3 linked regions of the Homo sapiens genome follow. The protein of the gene in region 3 interacts with the protein of the main gene of each other region in a pairwise test. Each region holds a gene or a part of one and is shown on either strand. Other genes may lie near its edges.

Evidence for each region.
Region 1: the proteins of CA8 (region 3) and SPDL1 interact in binary tests that used the Homo sapiens proteins (3 or more experiments, as listed by UniProt).
Region 2: the proteins of CA8 (region 3) and KLHL8 interact in binary tests that used the Homo sapiens proteins (3 or more experiments, as listed by UniProt).

The regions. Positions count from the first base shown.
Region 1 is NC_000005.10:169,579,969-169,586,772, forward strand, and holds the start of SPDL1 (protein Spindly), read left to right. Parts: upstream 1-3,804; 5' UTR 3,805-3,921; intron 3,922-4,111; exon of another isoform or gene 4,112-4,198; intron 4,199-6,804. UniProt on the Homo sapiens protein: Required for the localization of dynein and dynactin to the mitotic kintochore.
Region 2 is NC_000004.12:87,210,619-87,217,618, reverse strand, and holds part of KLHL8 (kelch-like protein 8), read left to right. Parts: intron 1-7,000. UniProt on the Homo sapiens protein: Substrate-specific adapter of a BCR (BTB-CUL3-RBX1) E3 ubiquitin ligase complex required for The BCR(KLHL8) ubiquitin ligase complex mediates ubiquitination and degradation of RAPSN.
Region 3 is NC_000008.11:60,186,876-60,195,267, forward strand, and holds part of CA8 (carbonic anhydrase-related protein), read right to left. Parts: intron 3,111-8,392; 3' UTR 1-3,110. UniProt on the Homo sapiens protein: Does not have a carbonic anhydrase catalytic activity.

The DNA of each region.
Region 1 (6,804 bases), on a different chromosome or scaffold from region 3:
GGGTTATAAAGTTTAAGTACAGAGGGTGTATTAATCTGCTCAGGCAACTGTAACAAAATACCACAGATTGGGTGGCTTAAATAACAGACATTTTCTCACAGTTCTGGAGGCTGGGAGTCCAAGACTAAGGTTGGTTTCTGGTGAAGTCTCTCTCCCTGGGTTGCAGACAGCCTCCTTCTCGCTGTGCGCACTTGGGAGTAGTGGGGAAAAGAGAGGGAGAGATAAAGAGGAAGGGGATCTATCTCTGATGTCTCTTCCTCTTCTTATAAGGACAGTAGCCCTATCAATTAAGGCCTCACCCTTGTGACCTCATTTAACCTAAAGGGCCCTGTCTCCAAATACAGTCACATTGGGAATTAGGGTTTCAACATATGAATATGGGGTGGGGGGCAATGGAGGTGAGGACACAATTCAGACTATAACAGAGGCAGTTAACAAAATCCATTTTTCCAGCTGTCCCAGTGAAAAATCTCTTTGGCTTAGATTCCATCACATGCACATCTTTGAATCAATTACTGTAACCAGGGTGACGGGATATCCTAGAGATGAAAGGTAGCATCAGTTTTAAAGAATTCATATGGCTGAAAATTGAGAAAATAGAAATTATACAAAAGAATAATCAGAATTCTCTTGGTGGGAATAGGAGGAAGGAATTCATGCTAGGATGTTAGCTGTTAAATGTCTACTATATTGGGATGGTGCACTCTTTCTCTGAGAGAAGATTCCCCCTATTTAAAGAAAAAATAGTATAGCTATTAGGCTCATTCAGAGTTCAAGCTGATGCTATACATTGTTGATACAGGAGAGATCGCAGACTGGGTTTCATTATCATTATTACTATTAAACAGTCAAACCCACCTGCCTGGTACAATGATTCATTCTGATATCTAATTATCACAGTGGAAGTTGTGACAATTCAATTTCCTGATCTCTTCTCATATGGCTCCTGTTTTTCTTGTTGGATCCTTATTCTCCTCCTGTGCCATGGATTAGGACAATCCCAAAAGTCCTGCACACACCCCTCCGTTCTCTCTCAAAGCTTTTTTTCTTCATCTCGGCCATCCCCCAAGTTTCAGTGACCACAACCTTGAGTGTAACTTTCGTAACTTCATATTCCAGCCCATCCTATAAATCACAGCACTCTACAGCTTAATCTCATTCTTATTTGCAGACTCTGTGTCTCAGAGTCCTGAGCTTGTTTTTGCTTGATCCCAGCGATGACTAGCTTGCAGCTCTACTTAATAACATGAAGGAACAAGAAAGTCTAAGTCATCCTCTAAGTAAGGATTTACTGTTTATTGTTTGGTAAATGTCTCTTCCACTAAACTCTAAGTTCGTTTAATACAGAGACTATTCATTTGTAATGCCCAAAACAAATGATCATTCAATAAGTTCCTGTCAAAATATATGCAGCTTTCAATATAACGTAACAGTCTAATCCTCTCGTTTCGTCTAGAACAGTCACAATGAAGAAATGATGACAAGTTCACTACAGGAGTCTATCCCAGTTCTGAACAGCTATAATATTAGGAATTGTAACTGAGGGCCACAGAGTTGGGAGGTGGGTGTTGTTTCCCAGAATCTGAACTCCCATCCTATGCTTGGTGAATCCACTACTGTGTGAGGAGGCCAAGTCCCATCTCTCCTTACGTAAATGGAAAATAACAGATACAAGGTTGCTGTTTTTTGCTTTTTCCTGACCTTTGGTATTTAGGCCATGGTATGCGGACCTTGCCTGAGTACGGAGATCTGCATCTGGTATTGTGAATCAGAAGTTCCATTAAGTTATCTTAAAAGTAGAACCCATCTAGAATTCATTTCACTTGTGACATCTAGCGTCCAGTGGTGGTATTGGCAGTCCTGTATTCAGGCCATCCCTAAAGAATGACCTTTATTATGACATGGGGTAACCTCTAAGACTTTCCTAATGCTGTCCCCTCCCCTAGAATGCACCCCTCCTTAGCTCTGCCATCCTTCAAGGCCCTGCTTGAAGTGTCACATGCACTGGGAAGTTTTAAAGGAACATTTAGACAAAATATACCTCTCCCTTCACACAACTCCTTTAGTGTGGGGCACATACCACTTGCATAGCATTTACAGCCCTGTAAGTTCTATTTGTTTTTTAAAATCTCCTACTATATTGCGAGCATCTTCTAGGCAATAGTCGAGTTTACCACATCTCTGAATTCCTCCACTATGCCTAACACATTGCAGTCACTCAATTAATAGTTTAAAATACATATTTTTAAAATAGAATAGGAAGAAACATTAATAACATAGGGTATACCTTCTCTTGTAACAAAGGAGAAAAAATAAGTTCAGATCGATTTTAGATTACCTAATTGCAGCCAGTCATGATTGGCCTAAGCTAGAACAATCTTTTCCTGGCCCCTGAGTTAAGGAATCTTTGTTCAGTGATAGGGAAAATGGTATTTGTTTCATTTCTCCAAGAACATAGGTGTGATTACAAATGAATGAGCATCTGGTTCATTGGAGTCCCAGATAAATCTGTGAGACAACACTGTGAGCAATTTGTTGCCAATCTTAAAGCTCAGATCAACCCTTTGAGTCTGGCTTAGCTCAGGCAGAAATTGTAGTCTGCAAAAGAAACTGAGAAGAAGAGGGCAAGGAGAGTGTGGCATCCCAAGACATAAAGACTCAAATCAATGAGAGCAAGCAACTCTGTCAAATTTCACCAGAAGTGAGGACTAAATATTGACTACCGAATTTTGCAAGGTAGGAATCACTGGTAAACCTAACAAGAGCCACTTCATAGTATTGGTTGGGACCAAATCCTGGTTAAAGTGGGAAAAACAAACAAAAGAACAAAAGGTAAGAAAATGGAGATAATGGATGTAAAGATTTTTTTTCCCCAGAAATTTTGTTATAAAGAGAAGAAAACAAATGGGGTGGTTGCCGATTGGTGTCAAGGAGGATTTTTTAAAAAATGAAATCATGAAATGATTTTATGGCAATCACTGCAGCATGTTTATGAACTGATAGGGAAGATCCAATAGAGAAGAAAAAACTGAAGATGCAAAAAAGAGCAGTTAGAGCCAAGTTCTCAAATAGGCAAGAAAAGATGGGCTCGAAAGAACGACATGATTCATGTAACAGTTACTAGGACTCATCAGTGCTCATTAAATGTTATCTATTATTATTTCTGATCGCTTCAATTTTTGAATAGGCATCAGGGTTACAAAATATTATTATTAAAAACACATGCAAACAGCTTGGACTCTAAGACTGCATTCAATTCTAGTTCTACCACTTGGACAAGGCACTTTTTTTCTTCGGGCTTTTTCTCTGTAGAAAACGAGGAGTAATATCTGCCTCATAAGGCTGCGGGCTTAACTGAGATAATCTGTAAACTTTAACACATGGTGGGAACTTAAATATTAACGCCAGTATTACCACTGGTAGGGTGCATGAGATCGCACGATGGTGCCAAAGGTGTCTCTCCACCGCCCAGCCCAGCGACACTGTTCCCCTAGAAGGCATTGTCGTAAAAACAAAAAAAAAAAAAAAACGAACAAACAAAACACCAAAACACGGAAACTAAAAGCAAATACTTAAAAGACATGCAGGAAACCAGCCCAAGGAAAAATTTATGTGGAGCCACGTCTGCGCCTGCGCCTGCGCCAAGCCCACGGCGCGCCACTTGCACATGCGCAGTAGCTGTAGGAGGGGGTGGGCGCTCCATTGGGCGTTTCTCTTGGTTTTTCCTTTCCGCGCGGCTTGGGCGGACGTCTCGTGAGACGTGGGACTTCTCGCGGGAACTGCATTCAAATATCCCAGGCGCTTACTCGAGAGCTAGCTGAGCGAATGGGCCGGCGACTGTGGAGTTAGCGTCCTCAATGTGGACGCCCTGAGCTCCCATTAGGAGCCGCTGGCTGCGGCAGCAGGGGACTAGCGTGAGAGGTAGGGGCAAGGGGCCTGGTGGGAGGTGGGTGTGGAGAGCGGCAGTGGGGAGAGTCGAACAGGCCCTAAAGAAAGCTAGGGGCCGGGGTCTCGGCCGAGGCCTTTAGCTGAAACATCTCCTTCCCCGGAACCCTGGGGTCTTATACACTGGGTTCCGAGCCGGTCTTATCTTCCGCTGGACCACCTCGCCGCCCTCAGGGATTCTGGACAAATATGGAACGTTGGGTCGGTTGCCGGGTCCTCAAAATTATAACCGCCACTGGATCTGCGCTGTGCGGTACGGTAGCCTCTAGCCCGAACTAAGAAATGGTGCAGATGGGAGATACATATTGGGTTTCAGAGATAGCGCATAAGGAGTAATATCTCATTAATAATTTTTATAATGATTACATGTTGAAATGATGTTTTGAGTGTATTTGTTTAAATATGTAAATTAATTTTTCATCTTTGTTTACTTTTTAAATCATGATGGCTCCTAGAACATTTAAAATCACGTACATGACTCGCGTTATATTTCTGCTGGACAGCACTGCCCCAGCCGTGTGTCAGATTCTACCCTAATTGCTTTTCATTCGTTATCTCATTTAATCCTTTCAGTAACCGATTAGGTGGGTGTTATTGTGCTTGTTTTTATAGATGATTAAACCAGAAATTAAATAACTTGTCCAAGTTCATGCAGCCAGTGAGTAGTGGAGGCGGGGTAAGAACTCAGGCAGTTTGATTCCCAGAGTTTCCTGTGTCCCAAATGCTTTGTGTGTGCTATATTTTTGAGAAGCAGGACAGGAAAAATGGTTGCAGCACCATGGTTTCTAGGTAGATTCTAGTTCCCATCACACTTCGCGTCTTAACTTGCGGGTAACCCTAAGCAAGTTACTTAAAACTTTCTATGCCTCAGCTTGCATGTGTAAAATGAGGGAAATACCTTCAACCTCTTGAAGTTGTTGAGAAGATTGAATAAGAATGTGTATAAAGCGGCCGGGTGCGGTGGCTCACGCCTGTAATCCCAGCTACTCGGGAGGCTGAGGCAGGAGAATGGCGTGAACCCGGGAAGCGGAGCTTGCAGTGAGCCGAGATTGCGCCACTGCAGTCCGCAGTCTGGCCTGGGCGACAGAGCGAGACTCCGTCTCAAAAAAAAAAAAAAGAATGTGTATAAAGCACCAAGCACAATGTCTGTCACACATTAGTAGTTTTTAATCAACCACGGCTATCTCTCTTTGTAGATTGATAGGTTAACTCTTTCTCATCCATTAGACCTCTGCTGAAAAGTTACTTCCTCAGGAAAATTTTTTTGTCCATGTTCCCTTCTACGCGCTGCCCCCCAGATTAGGACAGCTCCCCCTTGTTACAGGCTCAGGTAGCATACATCTGTCTCTCTTGCACTTATCATACTTGTAACTTGATAGTTCAATTACTTGATTTAATGTCTTTTACTAATAGACTAGGATTCAAGAAGACAGGAATATTGTTTTAGGTTGCCATTGTGTTGTCAACACTAGCACAATGTCTCACACAATAAGAATTCCAGCAAATTTTTTGAATAAACTAAAGCAAATTTTTTTTGGCTTCTCTGGATATGCCTGGCTGGAATGTCTTGAGGTTAACCCTATTTTTATTTTGGTAGTTGAGATGACAGTATTTACTTAACTCAAGCTCATCAAGATAATTAGATGAGATAATATATTTGAAGCAGTTAGCATGGCAAATGGTAAATCCTCAACGAATGTAAGTTATTGTGAACAGTACAACATTTAGTTGGCTGGCCGTATCATGTACAGGCTTTGAAAAGGTCTTGCATTTTAGAGCAGTGACTGCCAAGCTGGGATTACCTAGAACACCTTTTTTTCTCTCTTAAACCCTGTATCTCTTCCCTTGTCTTCATTCTCAGTTAAAGACCTTGCTTCCTAATTCATTGATAAATTGAAGCAGTTAAAAGGTTACTTACACAGACTTCCACCACTGTACCTGCTTATCAGCATCTAAACTCATATACTTTGCTTAAATGAAATATCCATGCTTCTATTAAAACCAGTCTCTACATTAAACTTCATCCTGTTTATTCAGGGACATCACTAGCAATTCTCCAGTGTCTTCTAGATCATCAGTTTTTCTTCTCTCCTGGATTTATCCCATGACCTACAAACACTGTTATTTTTTTCCATCTTAAAAATAAAAAAACTTGTCCCTACTTCCTCTCCAACTGCTGCTCCGTTTATCCGTTATCCTTTGCAGCAAACCTGTGCTTGCTATCTTTATCTCCTACCATTCTCTCTTGAAGGCATTCTAGTTAGGCTTTCACCCCCACCTGGATATCAAAACTGTTCTTGTCACCAGAGACCTCCAGGAATTCAAGTTCAATGGCCAGTTCTCTGCTCTCACCTTAATTGCCTTAGCAGCAGCATCTGGCATGATTGATTACTCCCACCTCCTTAATACACTGTTTATTGCCTTCCAGGACAACACATACTCCTGGTTTTCCTTCTACCTCACTGGTCACTCCTGATTCTCCGCTGTCTTCTTCCCTACCTCATAACAGGGTTCAGTCGTTGGTCCATTTCTCTTTAAATACTTTTATCCTCTATAGACTGATAATTCTCAAATTTGCATATCCAGCCAAGATTCCTCTTCTCATATATCCAATTGCCTACTTGACATAGTTCATGTTCAAAACTCAAATTCCTGATTTTATTTCCAAAACATTATTTACATCAGTGCTTCAGCTGATGGCAATTCCATTTTACTAGGTGCTCAGGCCAGAAGACTTGGAGGCATTTTTTACTTTTCCCTTTTTCACACATCCCAAATTATATCTTTCAGAAAATCATATTGACCTTACCTTCAAAACCTTCAAAATCTGGCCATTTCTCACAGCCTCCTATGCTGCCA
Region 2 (7,000 bases), on a different chromosome or scaffold from region 3:
ATCCTAGCACTTTCAGAAGCCAAAGCAGGCCAATTGCTTGATCCCAGGAGTTCCAGACCAGCCTGAACAACACGGCGAAACCCTGTGTCTACAAAAAAACAAACAAACGAACAAAAATTACCCAGATGTGGTGGTGTGCACCTGTGGTCCCAGCTACTCGGGAGACTGAGGTGGGAGGATCACCTGAGTCCAGGGAGGTCAAGGCTGCAGTGAGCCATGATTGCATCACTGCACTCCAGCCTGGGTGACAGAGTGAGACCCTATTTCCCCCCACCCCCAAAAAAAGCAAGAGATGAGGGAGGATAAATGTTTCATAAAATAACAAAATGTTGTTTTCAGTCGCTAAAATTCACTTGACTATGTCTTTTTTTTTTTTCTGAACAAAATGGTTTATATTAGCCAAAGAAACAAGAGGGAGTTGAGCATTTTAAATAAATTAATTTTTGTTTACTCATGTCAAGATATGTCTGCAATAAAAATGTCACCCATTAGTCTATTTTTAAAAATTCTGTTTTCTCTGTTTTGAGGAGCTTTTATGGAAGCACCAGACTATAATATTGTTCTGAGCTCACTTCTGGTACTACACAATTCTCTATTAGAATCCCAGATCTCCACTTATTGGCTGTGTGAGCATGGCAAGTAATTTTCTAAACCTCTTTCCTTAGCTGTGGAAGGGGGATAAAAATAATACGTACTTCTATTTTACCAGAATTGAGGATTATTTGGTGTTGTATGTGAAAACATTCTCTAAGCTATAATCAACTATAATATTCATTGATATTACTAGTCACATGCTGTATTTTAAAATGCTGCCAGTACAATTTATTTTCTGGTGGATATTGCTATATAGATACTGTCAGCTGCTTTTTTTTTAAATGGGTTGGTCATGCAAGAAAGTATATTGTTTGGTTTGGTTATGAATGATTTAGTTGGTTCTTATGAGTCAGAGAGAGAATTATGGAAGAGGGTTGGAGGGACCTTGGGAAATTTTCTACTTCATCTCTCTGACTCTTAACCTGAATCTGTTAGCGTGAGCATAAATGGTCTTCCAAGGGTCTGTGAACTCTGTATATTTATACTTTTCTGGGGAGAAATTAAATGAAAATTTATACTTTTCTGGGGAAAAATTAAATTAAAAGAGCATCATGACCTTGTTCCCACTAAAGGTTTAGGAAACCACTAGCTTCAATGATCTAGGCAGGTTTCTTTAGTAAAAATGTTAGAGATTATTTTTAAAATTAGTTTTTTGTGGAAAGGAAAGAGAAACAGGTTATATTGCGGAAAGGAAAGAGAACAGGCTATTTTTGAAGCACTGAGTATCTGTTTTTCTTCCAAAGCTAGAAGTTGATATTTATGATACACTACCTTCATATGAATAATAGTGCTGCTACTTCTACCTGGAAGTGGTACCTTTGATTGATTCATTATCATTAGGCAGGTATTGTCTACTCCTCTCTTCTTCCCCACCCCCAGCCTTGATGGGCAATACAGTGGAGGCAGAGAATGGGACTTTAATACAATCCAGCATGTCAGAATATTATTTAAAATGCCAAAAGATAATTTGGCTTGTTTATTCTAAATTTGGATGTTCTTTGTTTTCACAACAAAACACCCAATGTTAAAGAAAATTAAGTGTTTAATCTTTCAAACTAGATGATGATATATACATAATCTGTTGTATGATATTTCTTGTATATCATAGAGTATAAAATTTTATTAAATCCTAATTGATGATCACTTTGACTTTTAGTACTGCTAGTTTGAAAAGATGGATATGTATGTTTTCAAGAAATTTACAGTTTGCTTTTGTAGATTATATTATAATTTGTGATTTTCATTTATAACATTTAAAACTTATTTGCTTTTTTTGAATTTCTGAATCGGACATACTTTTAAATCTGAGTTTATTCTTATAAGAATAAGCGTTTGGAATTTTGCCCTGTTTTCCTTGTATAATGATTGCTGGGCTATAAGGCTTTACAGTGTAAAACCAAGTTCTGTTCTGGATCAGTTACTAGTAGCATTCCCAAGGCTGGGAGAGTATGAGGTGGATCAAGTGATGCTAAACAAACTTGTGAATGAATCTGTCCATCAAGTAATGTCTTTTTCCTTGAGATCTTTTTTTCCTTTGATATTAATATTTTCATTTAAAGTTGAAATGTTTTTCAAAGTTCAAGGTTCTAAACCAATATTTGGGAATTTATAGAATAAAGTAGCAGAAGTGTGGTTCTTTGTAAAAATAGTCTGAGAAGTCTGAAATAGACCTCAAAGATTAGTAGTAGAGATGAATGCCAATATTGCAGCATACTTTATATATAAAAGATAAGTCACTACGTTGGATCTTTAGTTATTTTAATGCAGAGGATTGCTTAACTTTAATAATGAAAGTTTGAATTAAATTAATTAGATATGGAAAACAAAAGGGAATAATTTCAGCAAAAATTTTACCTATGGGAATCCAATCATTTTAAGATCAGTGATTTGTATGGCTTCTCCTACACTTAAACCTTAAAAAATTCTGGCCGAGCGGGGTGGCTCACGCCTATAATTCCAGCACCGTGGGAGGCCGAGGCAGGTGGATCACTTGAGGCCAAGAGTTCCAGACCAGCCTGGTCAACATGATGAAACCCTCTCTCTACTAAAAATACAAAAATTATCTGGGCATGGTGGTGCACAGTTGTAATCCCAGCTACTTGAGAGGCGGAGGCTGGAGGATCATGTGAACCCAGGAGGAGGAGGCTGCAGTGAGCTGAGATTGTGCCACTGCACTCCAGCCTGGGTGACAAAGCAAGACTCCATCTCAAAGAAAAAACAAAACCAAAAAAAAACCTTTAAAAATTCCTGAAACATTTCCTGTATAGGGAGAATATTATTAATACCACTATTTTGGTTCTCATTGTCATTTACACATAGGCACCTCCATACAGAGATAACATTAATTCTGTCTTTGGCCTAGTGATAAGAGCTTGGGCTTTGTAGTCAGGCAAGTCTCTATTGAATCCTCGACATTGCACTTCATAGCTATGAGACCTTGGTTAGGTGTCTTAACTTCTCTGGGCCTCATTATCCAAAACTGCAAAAAAATAGGAATTTTACCTCTTTGAGTTATCCCAAGGATTGAAATGAATACATGTAAGTATTTAACTCATGATGACAATTATATATATATATATATATATATATATATATATATATATATATATCTGTTATGTGCCAGTTTGTTAACTCATTTAAGTTTTATAGCAATCCTATGAGGTTGATACTATTATTTTCCTCATTTTTACAGATGAGGAAACTAAAGCTAATGAAACGTTATGTAACTTAACCAATATCATACAATGAATATACAACTAATAAGTAGATAGAAGCACCCAATTAATGCTTGCTGTTGTCATTAAAAAAAAAAAGATGACTTAGGGTATTACCATCTTTTCTATAGTGGGTTCCTAATAATTGCAATCTCATGTAGAGCATTATAAAGCATATTTTATTTCTTTGCTGGAAAAAATGTTGATTGCAGGACTGTGTTCCTGACCAAGGACTCAGGATCACATAATTTATAAAAGTAATAACATCTGTTTATTGAATCTTACTATGTACTAGATACAGAGCTAAATACTTTATATAAATTACTTCACTTACCCATCACAACAACCTTAGAGCTGAGGCTCAGAGTAATTTTAAGTAACTTGCCCGAGGCTGCACAATTAACACAGAATCCCAAAACTGTCTAGCTCTAAAGTGTCTGCTGCTAACCGCCAGTTTATGTGCCTTGTGTCGCGTATGGCTGACAGATATCTCTCAAAAGCAAGGCAACAGCTTCTATAATTTTAAATAGCAAAATGTGCTACTGTAATTTTGAACCAGAAGGAAACTGATTACCTACTGCCTGTAGGCTAAACCAAGCTTGCTGCCTGTTTTTGTAAACAAAGTTTTATTGGAACACAGCCATGCTGTGTTCTTTTAAAAATAAAGACATTGAGACACAGAGAGATTAGGTAACTTCCCAGTAATGTAGCTAGTAGTAATCTAATGTCAGTAACTATGTTAATAAGCCTCTGAAAGTCTGCCAATCCCTGAATCCCATGCTACCCCCTAAACTCTATGTAAGCTCAGCAATGTGCTCTATTCAGAGGGACCGTGCCTGGATGGCATAGCTATCCCTTCAGTAAGTAGTAAATTCAGCTTTGTGCTTTTCGTTTGGTTTCAAACATCCAGTGTGAAATATTCCATACTTTGATACTTGGCAACAAATTATTGATAAATTAATTTTTTAGTAGGCATTGTTATCTTAAGTACAACCCTGTCACTTCTCTGACATTCTCAAATAAAAATAATGAGTAATATAGGCCCCTGTTAAGGTTCATGCATGTAGTTCGCATATTTAGGTAAAATTCAAGATCTTTCTTTTAATACTTTATACTAGACTTTTAGACCACTATGATTGTGATAAACTAAGTGGCCCAGTTCAAACAAGGAAATGATTACTGTAAGGTGTCAAAGGAATTCCTTTTTAATAAAACAGATCCCAAAATAAACATCTTACAAAGTATTCAGTGTAGTGAAAATGTTGTTTATAGACCCTAGAAATGACATTAGTATTTAACAAGCAGGCTTTGATAATAGTAGTATCTAATATTGCGTGTGTCATTTAAGGATGGGGATACACTCTTAAGAAACATGTTAATAGGCAATTTTGCCATTGTGCAAACGTCATAGAGTATACTTACACAAACCTAGGTGGTATAGCCTACTACACACCTAGGCTCTGTGGTGTAGCCTGTTGCTCCTGGGTTACAAACCTATACAGCATGTAGTAACATGCTGAATAATATAGTCAATACTGTAACACAGTGGTTACCTATTCGTGTGTCTAAACAGAAAAGGTACAGCAAAAATAAAGTGTTATAATCTTATGAGACTATCATCTATGCATTGGTCACCATCATCATCTATTGTGGACCAGAACACTGATATGCAGCACATGACTGTAAAGACTGTAAATGCTATTGTTAAGAAAATTTTTTTTTTTCTTTTTGAGATAAGGTCTCACTGTGTCGCTTAGGCTGGAGTCCACTGGCAAGATCATGGCTCACTACAGCCTTGACCTCCCTGGGCTCAGATGATCCTCCTACCTCAGTCCCCTGAGTAGCTGGGACTACAAGTGCAAGCCACCTCACCTGGCTAATTTTTTGATCTTTTGTCGAGACTGGCTCTCACTATGTTGCTCAGGCTGGTCTTGAACTCCTGGTAGGCTCAAGCAGTCCTCCCAGCTCATTGGTAACTGGTTGTTTTTAGCTTTTCAGTTTTCAAAAAAAAATTACTAGGTTGTATAACTCACAGCCTAAGTCATCAAGATATTTCTTAAAAGGTGGAACTGTTACATGAGAGGGCACGTAAATTAAAAAGATTTTGGATATCTTAGCTAAATGGAGCCTAGGAAGGCTTATATGAACAGCAGTGTGAGAGTGTTTATTTCCTGACAGCCCTACCAATTTTATTTTTTGTCTTTGGCAATATTTAATTTCATTGATTAATAAGGATTTTTAAATATTCTCATTGATCATTTTCCCTTTCATTAAATCTACCTTTTTTCTATACGTAAGGACAGTTTTCAGCAGACAGTGTTGCTGTACTACTAACTGAAGGCCATGTTATTGTTGGTCTTTACTCAGTTATTGTTCAAGAACACATCTGTCTAAAAGAGGACTCTGACATCGAGCTGTTGCAGGCATCTAATTCACACTTAAGTTTAACTATGACTTTGACTTCAGCACCAGTGACCTCTCTAATCAGTCTTTCCAGTAACCTACTAGATCTCTCCATTGGGTCTCCTATCAGTGTTGAATTTCAGCACGCCCTGACTTCCAGTTAGGAAATTATTCTTTCCAACTCAGTGATCTCGGCTCATTGCAACCTCCATCTCCCAGGCTCAAGTAGCTGGGACCACAGGCATGTGCCACTATGCCTGGCTAATTTTTGTATTTTTTGTAGAGATGGGGTTTTGCTTTGTTGTCCAGGCTGGTCTCAAACTCCTGGGCTCAAGTGATCTGCCTGCCTTGGCCTCCCAAAGTGCTGGGATTACAGGCTTGAGCCACTGTGCCTGGCCAAGAAAAACATTTTTTTAAAGTCACGGCAGTAATTTGTTGGAAGTCATGTATACTTTGAGTAGGAACTATTGAAGCTATTATACAGTTTTTCAAACCAGCAGATTCTCGTTTAATGATTGGTATATTTTGGACTGTTTGATTCAAAATTTTAAATGTAAATAAAAAGGAAATAATGAGTATAGCCTACTTTTTTCCTGACTTAAAAGTAAAAATGGAAATTTTAAGAAGAGTATTACCTTTGAAATAAAGTGATTCAAAAATTGAAGTAAATGTCTTATGCACAGTGTTACTTTAGTTAAAATTATTTAAGCATACATTAATTTGGATTATAGTAGAAAAATAATCTCTAGTGTTCATAATCTGTTCATCCATTATAAAAATATTTTAAGTACTTCTGTTTGTTTATTGTGTTATATGTGTTTACTGAACATGGGAGTAATAGCAGTGAAGAGAGACGGTGCCTATACTTTAGGGGCTTATGTAGTGTTACAGGGAAGACTAGTAGTGAATAGGCACTTATAAGTATTAAGTATTTTGAATTTGACCAAAAATTGAATAGGGTATACTTTGTGATAAGTATAATGAAAAAAATATCAGACTTTTGTGGGAGCACAGAGGAAGTACACTAGGAATAGGAAGATGTTTTGGGATGGCCTTCCTGAGCAGATGAACCTGGGCTGATCTTAGAAGATGAGCAAGAGTTAGCAGGAGAGAGGGGTGGTAAAGGGCATTTCAGAAAGAGCAGAAAGCCTGAAAGGAGGCAGAGAGGTGTGAAATAGCCTAAAGTATGTGGAAAATTAAACACATTCAGGTTTTGCTCTATGGAACATGGGGTGGGGTTTGCCATTTTGTTATTTCACAAGTATGCAAGAATTGATTTTGGTAAATGC
Region 3 (8,392 bases):
TCAACAACAGTCAGAGAATTCAATACACTACTTTCATAATAGACAGAAATAGGCATATCAACAAGGAAATAGAAGACTTGAACAACACAACAGGCCAACACTATAGACCTAACAGCCATCTATCTATAGAACACAGCATCCAACAACAGTACAATACATACTCTTAAGTACACATGGATTATTCTGCAGGATAAACCATATGCTAAGCCAGAAAGCAAACCTCGATAAATTTAAGACTGAGATCATATAAAGTATGTTTTCTGATCACAACAGAAAAAAATTATAAATCAATAACAAATTTGGGAATTCATAAATATGTGGAAATTAAACAATGTACTCCTAAATAACCATTGCATCAAAAAGAAATTAAAAGGCAAAGTATTTTCTAATACCTTGAGATGAATGAAAACAAAAACATGGCATACCAAAACTTATTGGATGCAGCTAAAGCAATGCTCAGAGGAAAATTTATAACTGTTAATGCCTTTATTCAAAAAAGAATTCAAATCAATAACCTAACCTTCCACCTTAAAATACTGGAAAAGACACAAACTAAATACAAAGCAAGCAGAAGTTAGTCTGCTTTCTTACTAATCTTACTATTTTGTAAGATTTGAGCAGAGTTTGATGACATAGAGAATACAAACACAATAGAGAAAACCCCAAAATCCACTTTGGCTCCTTGAAAAAAATCAATAAAATTGACAAGCCTTCAGCTAAACTAACCAACAAAAAAAGAGTAAACTCAAATTATCTTAATTGGCAAACCTTCTGACAACAGTATTACTTTACACACCATCAGGTACGTTAGTTACCATGAATCAGAGGCACTTACATGTGTATAAGCTACATGAAAAATCATTTCACTTTGTTGCCTTATTAAATTGTTTCATAAACAAAATGCACCCTAAATTAAATTTCAAGATCTATGACATTTGTCATTAATTCTCCCCTTTTTCTTTGGGAGATTCCTGCCCCAATTACAGGGTCCATCACATAGGTTTTACTTTCTTTCCTATCACACCATCAAAACAGATTTGAGATTAGTTGTTGTGCTTTCGTTTACTGACAAACTACCTTTCAAATTCATTCCTACAAAAGCGTATTATAAACAGTATTCATATTCTGAATCTGAGGTAACTAACTGTGGAATTAAAGGATTTTCCATATAAAGAATATTATGCCTCCAAACAATGTCACCAATGGACACCATGATCTGAACCAAGTAGTTCATTTCAGTCTTTTACTCAGAAAATATACAGTAAATAAATTCAAATTGCTTCAATATACAGACATAAACACACATACACACACACCTGTGAAGGGTGAAGTCTGAACAACTAGATGTTATCCTGAAAGTCATTTAATTACTATTTGTTATTGTATTTGTTTATTTTGTGTATTTCAGGGAAAGATGAAAGAAGATTGCAAGAAGCATCAGAAGTCTAGTTCAAGAACAATCCCTGACTGTTCAGCACCAACCCGGTCAGGAGTGGAGAGGCTGGTACCTGTGCAGTGTTTTGTTCCAGGAATGCCATATGAATGGCCTCTCATTTATGGAAGGCTTCAGATCTAGTCTTTTGATGTTAATTACAAATAAGGCTGCACGTGTGCAGCCAATGTTTGGCATGTGAGTGGTAACAGTGCTAGATGTAAATATTTTTGTCACAGTTTTGTAACCATGCTTCACCGTTTCCTCATTGTTGGACACTAGGAACTGTTATACACAAGGGAAGTCCAGGACCTCTCTCCGCTTTCAGAGGCACTGCCTGGTGCTGACCCCATGTGATCCAGGGCTACCAACAGATCTCAACCCTTAGCAAGCCTCAACTTTTCCACACATTGCCATAACCCTAGTCCTTTCTCTTGCTGCCCAAGAATACATGATGAACTTTCTTTGCTTGAATTTCAGGGATATCTGGTGTGATTTTCATTTGTATTTAATGCTTCCATTATTACCGTCTCTACTCAACACATCTAAAAACTCTGAACATATACTTATTCCACCTGTCTTCTATTTCTATGACTTAGATATTCTGCATCACAAAATCCCTCCAAACTGGGACTATGTTTTTGAAGTCATTCATTTTACAATTATAACAACAATAACAATAATATTTATTGTTTGCTTTGTGCCAGGTACTCTACTGCTTTACATAAATTATCTCATTCTGTCACATCTAACGGCAACTAAGTATACGCTTACATCTGCTAGTGGCACCTAAAATAAGGATATTGTTGGTCATCTTTAAAGAAATGTCTTAACATACCAAAGTAGTGGAATCAATAGAATAAAATATTTAAGTCTTACAAAGCGTACGACACTAAAGTAATATAGGATACCACTAAATTTATATTTCTATGTATGGAAAGTAAAGCTATTCCTGGTACATGGTGCTGACCTTCTTTTTATCCTATTTCTTACACCTTTCTCAAATTCCTATTAAACCACAGCTTCGAATATGTCAAATAAATAAATTTGATCCATACATTCAGTTAAATCCTTCAACTATGTAGTAATACCTAAAGTGAGTATTATGTTGCTGCATTAATGCCAAAAAATGTTTCCCATGGCAATCCAGCCTAATATTAATTGTGGTATGGGTGCTGAAAAAATAAAATGAGACATAATTTTACTAATCATTCACTTTGCATTTTGAAGCTCTATGCTGTTCTTAATCAAAACTCTTATTTTATTATCAAGAATTACACTAGTTCTAAAATGAGTGAATTTTCTGTTGGAGACAGGAAATGAAGAACTACTAACACCGGGAATGTATTTTTCCTTTCTCAATATTAACACATGATATATATTCATATTAATAACAACTCTGGAAACTAGTTTCATTCCTTCTACACATAAGCAATAAACAGTATGTGCAACTATGAATCCTAGCAGCAGTAATGTGGATATATAATATAGGGTTTCTTTGGAATATACAGCCATTTCTAATATTTCATTTCAGCAAGTGTACAGGCAACCATCACAGATGTCCATCAAAGCTGGATTAGATGAAGACAAACAACGCAGGCTTTGAGGATAAACTGAAGGTGCAGCTCAAAAGTTTCCTTTTCTTATCCAAGGGCATTATAGGACCATTGTCTTCCTCCTTCAGGCAAAAAAAAAAAAAAAATGAATCAATTATGTTACTGATATTCTTCCACAGCAGACTGAAAAGTCTTTTTACAGTACAAGAGATAGTAAAAACTAAAAATTTCATAAGAAAATGTGGAAATTTCAAAAATATCTTTGTGCTCAAGTTTGTTATCTCTGCAATTTTTCCACAAAGTTTACCATAATTTTATTTCTATGGCAGACCTATTAATGCAGGATTTCACAGAAGCAAATACTTTCATCCAAAATAAATAATGCTTGAACTATTTTACAAACAAAAAATATGTATATCATGTCAAATAATAAAAATAAAGCTTTAAGTTCTTGTCATTCATTTCACATATAATAATCACAGATGGATGGTAGCTCAAGAGCACACAGACCCCTTCATTCCTAATTCCCAAATGACTTACAATTCTATTAAATAAATAATAAATGCAGAATATATATATATATATATATATATATATATATATATATATATATGACAATAGTACTTGTTTGAGATAACAAATAATGTGCTTCTCATATAGGAAAACAACATCAGCTAAGATTTTAGTTCAATGATACTGAACTTTTTGATGTTGAACTAGCATTGCTAGCAATGGCAGTGGGAAATTTGCAGTCTTATTAGTTGCCTAAGGTAGGTAATAAATCTCTATTAAAATTTAGAATGCATATACTTTTGGACTTGGAATTCTAGGAACTTATAATAGACATATAATTATCCAATCATACAAAGAGTCTATGTGTAAGGATATTCACTGCAAAAAGAAACTGGAAACAAACTAAATGGCCTCCTTCTGGGCAATGTCCTTTGGAAAAAAAGAAAAAATAATAAAACAAAATAGCCTCCTTTCCTTAATAAATTATATTACTATGCAGTATTTCAGAATTATGCATATATAGTATATATGTATCTGTGGACACACCTGCACACACACACACTATATATATATATATATATACACACACACATTTCTACATATGCATACATATATAAACATAGATACATACAAATATATAGAATGTCTGGAAAAATTTATTAGAAAATATTTATAATGCTGGGTTATGTATTTCCAAACTATATATTTTTTCCTGCTCCCACTCTACCAGGACCAAACTACATTTCAAATATGATAGTCACAATAAAATCTTTTTAAATTTTTTAATCTTTTTAAATTGACAGAAAATATTGTAGATATTTATCATGTCAACAAAATGTTTTAAAATATATACACATTGTGAAATGGCTAAATCGAGCTAATTAGCATGTGTATTACCTCACATAGTTAAAAATATACTTTTAGCACTTTTCAAGAAAGTGATATGAAATTGATTATCAAACTGTAAAATCACACCAATTCAGAGTTAATGGGGCCTAAAGGTCACAATGTATTTATTTTCTGCAAAAGGAAATAACCTGGGGTCCAGTGTTTCCCAAACTATGTTCCATAAAAAACAACAACCTGGTTGAAAAAACGAATCCATGTTAAAAAATACTGTATCAACTCTGTTAAAATATGGTTCTTTAATTCAAAGCCATTTCAGAGGCTCTAATATGCTGATGTGCATTGCAAATCTCCAAAAGGAGGATATTATTACATCCAGGATTCTCCAGATATATGTGAACAGTCACCTCTTGATTTAACACACATTTTGGAGGACCAGTGCGCTGCAGAACTCATTTGGGAGAGGCTGGTCTAGAAGCATGTATCCTAAGTTTATGAAATTTCATTATAAAGAATATATCCAGCCTTCTAAATATTAAGCTACCATGGCCCAAAACATGAAATAAAATATGGGTAGGTAAATACACAGTCATTCTAATCATACGAGGTCAGGTCTCAAGCCAAAGCAGAATTTAACATTTAGTATACATCCACAGTGCAACAGATGCACATACATGTTGGTGTCCTATTCATTTTTGAAGCTCTCAGGGCATGATTCAGGGGGTTCTTGGTAAATGCTGAATGAATTCTAATTTACCTACGTGTAGAATCTGCTGGTGAATTTGCACACTCACTCAGTTAAAATCTCCCTCACATGGGGAAACTCAATACCCTATGCTATTGAGCTTTTCTTACTTATATATTTTTCAAAGAAATGACACCCACCTATGCCAAGATCATATGATGATGATCTTATTAGCTTTACCTGCCTCAAAAATGTACACTTGATCTTGTTTACTGCAAATACCAGATTAACTGAAAAAATGTTTCAATGAAATCACAATCTGGGGTATGGATTTGGAATGAGGGAGAACCAAGTCCAAATCCCAGCTCTTCTATCCAATTTGCTGTAAGATTTTAGGCAATTTACTTGCCCCTTCTGAGACTCAGACAATATCTACTTCTTAGGGAATGTGTGGGACTGTAATGACAGCAGATATCATGTGCTGAGCATAGTACTATAAGTAATAATTTTGGTTGATTTTAAAATCATCTCACTAGCTAAAAATTAAACTACAATACTGTGCTCCAACATAAATGTGAAGTATGGCCCATTATGTTTATGCCATGTGTTGGAAGTTTACTTTTCAGTGTTTTAGAGAAAGTTTTCATAGGATAAAGTAATGCTTGGTCTCATCTGTTCCGTATTCCCAAGCTCCAGCCCAACACCTGACCCAAAGCACTCAGAAAATGTGTGTGTGCATGCATAAATAAGTGCAACAAAATGACAGTAGCAATTGCTAATATTATTTATATCAAAATTATGCATGCATATAAAGGCTTAAAGTTTTTAAATGTTTGTTATGAAACTATCAGTCCCTTGTCCTATGTGTCACCAATTTCCTTCTCCTTAACTCTTTTAGCTGATTATTTTAACACTAGAGAGCTAAATGGCATGATTGTATTGCTACCTTTCAATTTTGTTTCAGTATTATGTATAAATTTTTCCTATGGAGAATGAAGATTTGACCCTCTTTCCTCCTGTCAACATCATGCACACACACACACACACACACACACACACACACACACACCCCACCCCATATGAACCCTTCCCATCTTCCCATCACCCCATCCTCCAAATATGGCTATATAGTAAATCTGGTTGAATCAATTATGCAACTTCTATTATTGTAATGATGTAAAAGTATTCAGAGGTGAACTACATGTGTTAATTTTTCTTTCCTGCACAACATTTTGTTTTCTCTGGAGTGATAAATACCTTGGGTTTTTCCACCTAAGTGTTCTACGTGCTCATAACTGATTCAATGCACAAATACCTACCCATTGCCTAGCTCTCCTCTCAAGAAGTGAAGATATATCATGCATTGTATCAACTTCACCATTCCTGAAGAAAGCTCATCTAGAACCTTCTCACCTGCTCACATCTGGACTGACTGCCTGGTTTGCCTATGATCTCATTCTACTGTCATTCTGGCATTTATTCATCCCCTTGGTTTTTCTCCTTTGCTGGCTCTCCTGTTTCGTGGATCCCACATCTTTTTCCTTAGCTTACTCCATTTTGGTGTGGCAATATCAAGTAGCTTCTGGGAAATAAATTTGTGGTGGCTTTGATATCTATAAATGACTACTGTAACCACACACTGGGTTAAAAGTTTGACTAGGTAAGGAATTTGGTGGGTTGTAATTTTCCCTCAGAATTCTGAAGGTCATGCTCACTGCCTTAGCTTCCAGCGTTGCTTTTGAGAAGTCTGGTATTCAAATTCCAGATTCCTTGATTTTGACATGTTTGTTGCTTTGGTTTTTGCCATTCTGGAATTTCTCCCTCCATGTTCTGAAGTTTCACAATGATGGTGTCTTGGTGTGAGTGTGTTTTGATCTACTGTGCTGGGAATTCAGTGGATTCTTTCCATTTGTAACTTTATGCTCACGAGTTCTGGGGAAATGCTTTGGATAATTTTGTTGCCTGATTCCTCTCCTCCACTTTCTGTGTTCTCTCTCTAGCTTATTACGTGGACGATAGACCTCTTAAACTGGTCCTCTAATTTGCTTACATTACTGTATTTTTCATCTTTTTGCCTTTTGCTGTAATTTCTGAGAATTTTCAATTCTGCCTTCTGATTCATCTGTAGAAGTTCTCATTTCTGCTATCATGCTTTCAGTTTCCAAAAGCTCTGTTTTCTAAATATTCCTTTCTTAATAGCACCCTGTTTTTTTTGTGAATGCAATTTCTTTCCTTACCTCTCCAAATATATGAGTGACAACTTCTTGACAGTTTTTCTCTTCTTACAAAGTATTTATGTCTTTTAACTCACTTTATTGTCTGATTTGGGTTCTTTCATTTACAGTTCTTCTTCAAATATCTGTAACTGTTCATATCTGGGACTGGCAAACAACCACTACAACAAAACCAGAGTGGAGGCGGAGGGCACCGTGGAGGCCTCTTTATTACACCATCACCACTGGATAAGCCCGTTGGTCCACTTCTGCAGAGAAGTCACCTGGGCTGGTCAGACCCTCCCCAGAAGATACTTCCAGCTTCATCTGGAGAGTAGGGGCCTTTCTGCCAGTGTATGGGAGGATGACATGAGGTCTGAGGATGTTATTTACTCACTCAATTGTGTCTGTGTCCCCAAGTACAGAGTCTCTCTCTTAATCATCTCCAGAAGACAAGTATCTCCAGTCCACCAAGGCTTTGGAGGGGGCTGAGAGATTAAGTGCTTCTTAAATAGCTTTCAACCAATACAGATGTCTTTAGCCTCCTTTTACTCCAGCTTCCAGATGATGTCTGTTGCCACCAATTCCTGGGAATTTGAGAGATTCTATCATGCGAACGGGTTTGTTCCTCACATCTGCTAAATCTGTTACAAGACCATCTGCTTCCAGCTTCCAAAGTATTGTGGCTGTTGTCTCCTCTCTTGCTTCTGTATCCTTGTGAGGCAATGCACTTAAAAAAAAATCTCTTTCCTGTTATTTTAATGCAGTCTGTGGTGGAAACAAAATTAGTTGCCTACCTTCAATTGATGGTCATTATTTGAAATATAAGTTCATTTTTATGCCTTTGTGTATTTTCTAAAGTTCCTACAATAACTACATTAGTTAGTAATCAGAATACAAATTTATTTGGTAAAACCACCTAAAGAAGTAACACTTTGAATATATGAAGTTAAGGCTGAACTCCTCCCTTTGGGATTTTCTCCAAATATTCATTTATCTACATCTAAATAATAAGGAAGCTTACTCATAAAGAGAAATTTTCTATTATACAATGATCAGTGTTCATAATGATGACCTCAAAGTATGGCCACATCCTAAGAAGTCTTCTAAATCATCAGCTATTTCAATATAGTTATAGCAGATGCCA